Regions from separate parts of the Homo sapiens genome. Here region 2 is linked to region 1. The links come from fine-mapping of genetic effects on gene expression. A gene starts in region 1. The other region holds a variant in brackets. All regions are shown on one strand. Distances are from middle to middle. Region 1 holds the start of CHST13 (carbohydrate sulfotransferase 13). Region 2 overlaps C3orf22 (chromosome 3 open reading frame 22).

What was found.
Region 2: its variant is fine-mapped to the expression of CHST13 in whole blood (TOPMed, PIP above 0.99).

Annotation. Positions count from the first base shown.
Region 1 is chr3:126,522,362-126,525,263 of GRCh38, reverse strand. It overlaps CHST13 (carbohydrate sulfotransferase 13), which reads right to left and starts at 1,109. Exons shown (of 3, transcript NM_152889.3): 1 at 835-1,109. The coding sequence starts at 931. RefSeq lists enhancers at 1-222, 223-723, 784-1,284, 1,285-1,785.
Region 2 is chr3:126,550,500-126,553,401 of GRCh38, reverse strand. C3orf22 (chromosome 3 open reading frame 22) reads left to right here. Exons shown (of 4, transcript NM_152533.3): 2 at 1-100; 3 at 1,280-1,405. The coding sequence starts at 12. Among named protein-coding and RNA genes, the nearest start is that of C3orf22, 7.0 kb to the left of the region's middle. RefSeq lists an enhancer at 2,566-2,902. The variant C/G (reference allele first, on the strand shown) is at 1,322.

The DNA.
Region 1 (2,902 bases):
CCCACACTGGGGGTGGGGAGGCGGACTGAGTCGTCCCACCCAGCACGCATACCACATACAAGGAAAGGCAAACAGCCCTGAGGTCAGGAGACCCGGGCGCTGGCTGGGCCCCTCCAGTCCCAAGTAGATTGTATAGCCAGCACGTTGCCACCACACCTGTCTCCCCACTCTCTGGCCCGCTTCAGATTGTGTGAAATGGGTTGATGGGAGGCTTCACATGAGCTGAGGAGAGACTCAGAGCAAAGACTCAGCACCGGTGGAGCCCAGGGCACTCAGCTCTGCGGAGTCATGACTAACTGCCTCAGTTTCCCCAGCCAGACCACGAGTGGGTGCACAGGAGTCCCAAGCCCTACCCAGTGTGGATTTCAGGGTGGAGCAGGGAGTGGCACCCACTGCACAGTAGGACAACCAAGGGACCGGACCGAGTGGCCCAAGCTTCCCCTCCTATGCGCATGCGCCCAGCAGCGCTCATGTCCAGGGGCCGTGGGGTGCGCAGGGGAAGGGGGTGAAGGTAAGGGAGATGGCCTTCCCGGATTGGCCAATTGTCCTCTACCCCCCACAACTGACCCCGGTCTCCAGGCACCGGCTGTGGGACTCAAAACAGTCACCGCTCTGGGAGTGGGGAGGTAACTCCGGAGGAGGAGCAAGAGCCTTTGCTCGCGGGGGCGTCTAGAGCCTTTCTGTGCCTCACCAGCGCCCCTGCCCGCCACCCCTAGCCCCAGCCAGGAAGGAGACAACAGGTGTCCCCCGCGCTGTCGAGGGGTCAGGCCGCGGTGGAAAGCGCGAGGAGCCAGGTTTGGTTGGGGGTGCGCGGCTCGGCCGGCGGGCACTCACCCGGGCGCAGGGAGCGGGGCGCGGCGCATAGGAGCAGGAGCGCGGCGCCCAGACAGGCGGCCGCCAGCACGCGCCGCCGGCAGCAGCGCCTCCCCATGCTGTGCCGGGCGCGCGGCGGAGGACAGTCCGCTGGATACGGCTGGGGGCGGAGTTGCACTGGCCCAGGACCCGGCCCCGGCAGCGCAGCGCCTACCAAGACGCGCGGCGCGGCGCAGGGCAGGGGAGCACGGCAGCTGGACCCCAGCCCCACCAGCCCCTGCGAGTCGCTGGGGACTGAGGAGGCGGGACACGGTGGGGCCGCAAGCCCGCTCCTCTTTTCGTGCCCCCACCCTCACCCAATGGAATGGGGCCGAAGTCCAGGGCGCTAGGGCGGAGACTGATTGGGGAAGCCCCTCGCCTCTGGGCCCCGCCCCTAGGGTTTGCCCAGGGGTGCCATTATCCACCCAAGGCCAAGAGGCATTGTCGCGGTGGCGTGCCCCACCCCGGGCGGTGTCCCCTTGCCTTTTTGCTGCCTTAGATGCCAGGGGCCCAAGGGCTGATCTGGGATGAACCAAGGAGCCTAGTAGAGCGTTGCCCTGTCCATGGCTCTCCGGGACCCCCGCCCTCAGTAAGAGGCCTAAGAGTGTCCCTCCCTCCCCGACCCAAGGCTACCCTGCAGCCTTGCTTTCCTCCAGGGTCTCCAGGTCCTGCCTGAATCTAGCTCATGCAGGTGGCACTAGCCTTTGCACAGAGAGGTAGGGTCTCAGCTTACATCCCCCGGGGAATGGAGCTTGTGCCTCATCGTGTCACCCACAACTTCTCTGGGCACCACGTGAGCTCTGAGGACTTGCCAGGGACTGTGTGTGTGTGTGTGTGTGTGTGTGTGTGTGTGTGTGTTGGGGGGTGGAGGGGGCGAGGTGAGAGTAAAGTCCAGCCTTTGAAAGACACACACATCCAGCTAGCCCTGTGGGCAGGAGCCCACGTCTAACCGCAGGGTCTTGCTGCCCAGAAGTCAGGCTAGCAGGGAACGGGAGGGTGCAGCTGGCACTGGGTGCGCGGATGAGTGCGTTGGAAACAACATTTAGCAGTGTGAGTGCATGGGATAGGGTACTACATTACACTGTAGGTTTTTTTTGGAGTTTTTTGTATAAATGTAAGGGACACAAGTGCAGGTTTGTTACATGGAGATATGCAGTGGTGAGGTCTGGGCTTTCCGTGTAACCATCACCTAAATAATGTCCATTGTACCCATTAAGTAATTCCTCATCCCTCCCACCTCGCTCACTCTCCTACCCTTCCAAGTCTCCAGTGTCTATTATTCCACACTCGAAGCTCCAGTTGTTAAACTGTTCTTGAAAAATGTGGTGACTCCAAACCCACCTGGTGCCGCTTACTGCTGTGGGAGATTAGGAAATTAACTGCACCTCTCTGTTTCCCATTTTCCTGTACGGGGGGATAATCCTAAACCTCAGTGCTGTGAAGATTAAATGAGATACAGGAAATGTTTGCAACAGTGTCTGGCACTCAGTGAGTGCCAGGTAAGTATTTGATATTAGTAATTAATTTGTTTATGGTTACTGCCTGTTTCTGGCAAGTGGCTGGTTTCTGTTAAAGTGGTGAAATAAAAATTTCTCCCTACTATATTTATTTAAGTTGTGGAAGATCTATTTAAGGAAGAATATTAAGCAAATAATAGTTCTGCTGGTTTTGAGATACAGCTTTAAATGGTGATGATGTTCTCAAAGGACAGGGGTGGGAGTCCAGACTCACAGTAAGCTAGAAGCTTCTTATCATGACTTTTCTGGCCTTGGGGAACCTCTAGCCCACCCCCAGACTGGCCCAGGACCCAGGGATTCCAGGTCATCTGCATTCCCTGCCGGACCTAACTCGCATCCAAAGGTGCCTTCCAAATTTCCCCAGACCGGCATTCCCTGGCCTCACTGCCAGCCTGGAATCCTCAGCGCGCTTTGCCCTTATATGCTGCCACCTGGTGGCCAAAGTTGGGAATAACATCTCAGCCCTTCATCCGGAGATGTCCCTGGAAATGGGGTCCCTGGAGAAAGGAAGAGATGGTCTTGGGTCTTGGGGT
Region 2 (2,902 bases), 28 kb before region 1:
CCCACTCAGTGATGGACTCCAGTGCCTGCAAGAAGTCTCACCAGAGTAAGAAGTGGAGGATCCAGGCCCAGGAGAATTTTGCCAAGAAGTTTCCGTACAGGTGCGGGAGGCTGACACCTCTGGAGACAAGCCCTGCCTCCCCCAGGTCACCCCAGCATCCTGGGAACTCAAATGCATTCTGTGGGGCTGCAGCTGGGAGGGGGTTTTGTCCACAGGGAGACCCTTAGCAGCCCTTGCCCAGCTGACAGTCTGGGGTCCGCCTTCGTTACCCCCATCACAGCCTAAGCCGAGGGGCCTCTGGGTGGGCTCAGGCCTCCCTGGGTCATCCCAGAGCCCAGGCCAGCTGCTTCCCCAAGTCACGCGAGGAGCATGGCCACAGACGACTGCCCCTCCTGAGCTGTGTTGGAATTGGTGTGCTGGGCACCCATTGTTTGTGAGCTCCTGGGACTCGCAACTAGCCAGGATAACGGGCAGCCCGAGGGGGCCTGGGCCAAGTCTCCACAGGGCACTTCACATAAGGACAGAGCCACGGGCCAAAGAGGCAAAACAAATGCAAGGGAAATCTTGCCAGCAATGCCTGGGGCGCAGGGCAGCTGGCCTCCCACCCGCAGGACAGCAGGCAGCACCTGGCACTGGGGCTCAGCTTGGCACCGTGCAACCTCAAGCTTCCCACTCCATGCTCACCCCCCACCCCAGAAGCAAGTGTTGTGCGCCCAGCAGTGGCCCTGGATGCTTGGCAGGGCTACCCACAGGGACCACGGGGGACCACCAGGGCAGCCACGCTCGAGGGAGGTGGGGACGATGAGCTCCATGCTGTGTCCCTGTGCCGGGCCAGCTGAGCACCTGTTCTTGTCCTTGCCCCAGGAAACTGTAGCCATAACCTTGCACCCCATTCTGTCCCCCACCGCAGACACCATCACATGAGGCCCAGGTGGCAGGTACACACCACACAGAGTGGCCTCAGGTTGAAACCAGGGGAGGCCAGCACCCAGGGGCTCAAGTGCTCTGCACCGTTTGGCTGCTGTGGCCATGACAAGGCTCTGGAGCAGGCTGCAGCTTAGTTCCCACCTCCTGGCTGTGGAACCTCTGTGCCTCAGTTTCCTTGTCTGTAAAGTGTGGGTAACACCTGCCTCACAGCATGCTTGTCAGCTGACATATGGGCTAATATTTGTGAAGCACTTAGAACAGTGCCTAGCAGATGGAAAGTTCCAGATGAGTGAGAGTTACTTCAGGAGGCTGGTGGATGGTGGCCATGTTGACATTCCAAGTGCTGTTGCAGGTTGTCGTGGCTGACAGAGCCCGACCCTGAGCCCCTGCAGCC[C/G]TGGGAGGTCACAAACGACTCGAACACGGTGCAGCTGCCCCTGCAGAAGAGGTTGGTGCCAACGAGGTCCATCCCAGTCCGAGGGTAAGTCCCTGCCCTGATGCCACCACCCCCACTGGCTGTGTGCATGCTGCCTGGCTTTCTGTCCCCCAGTTTTGCATGCAGACGTTCATGTTATCCTCCCAGCACGCGCCACTTTAAAGCTGAGGAAACTGAGGCAGAGAAGGGGGATGCTAAAGCCTGATAATTGTTCCCACAGCCAGGCAGCATCCAGGCAAGGGCACACAGAACCTTCCCTGGGCAGGGCCCAGGCCACCGGGGTTAGGCCTAGTTGGAGGAGTGGTGGAGAAACTGGCCTCAGTGCAGCAGGAGTTTAGCCAAGTCCTCCACATGGGAGAGCAGCAAGGGAAGGAGCCAGGAGCTTCTGCACTCACTGTGGCTGCACTGGGCCGGCTAATGCTGTACTCCAAGGGTGGAGGCCCTGGCAGGGACCTCTGCACTGGGTGGCCCTCAGCTGACCACAGCACAAACTCTCATGCCCCCTTGTCACCCCATGCATGGGGCGCTCAAAGAAACCCTGCACACCTTTGGAAAGATCCAGCCACGGAAAAGCAGACCCTCAGGCACACCTACTTCCTCCTAAACAGATGTGGAGAAAGAAACAGAGCTTCTGACCTGGTGTCTCCTCAGTCATGCACGGCACGGGGAACAGCTGTGTGGCACCGAAGGGCTTCCTCCACCAGCGGTGCAGGACCCCTAGCCTCCTGAATGCCCCGGCCCCACTGATGCCCTGGCCCCCCGCCCACTCCAGTTAATGTCAGGGGCAGGGGGGGGTCTGTGTTGACTTTTCCATGCCCATTGTTTGATATAGTGCCTGTCAACTCTGGCCAGCCATGAGGATGCACACGCGTTCCCCTGAACACACACCTGGAGAGATAGTAGTGCCACGCACACACACACACACACAAAGAACAGACTTACATGCACATCCAGCACACAAACGGCCCTGGCCTTTGCCAGGCCTCACTCCCCGTAGTTCGGCTACAGGAGCATCAGATCCCCAGGCTTTTGCCCCACATCGCCGAGCTGAAGCAATGGGGCTTAGCGGCCAGGGCTGGGCTCTGAGAGCTCAGATGTTCCTGGTCTCAGATTCTACCCATGCAAAATGGACTGGCTTAGAGTCAGGGGCAGCTGTGGGGTCAGAGCAGAGGCCTGGGGCTGAACCCCTGCTGCTGGGAACATGTCAGGGAGCTGAAGGGGGCAGTGGGCTGAGCCAAGGCTGGGGAGAGATAATTGACCAGGGACCAAGCGGCTCCCAGGGCCCAGCCACAGCAGGGAGTTGGTCCCATGCCAGGGCTGGGGGAGTGGGCATTGGTGGGTTTCCACATCTCTACGGCCGGGCCCATGAGCACAGGAGGTAGGGAGGGGGCTGTGGGTGTCAGCCTCAGTCAAATGGCAGCAAAACAATGGGGAGCAGGCAGAAGGGAGCTTTCCCACGCCATCCTGTCGGGGAGCTGCGGAGACAGTCAAGCCTGTGGGTGGCATGCTGGGTCCTGCATGTAGCTGCTGGGAGATGGGCTG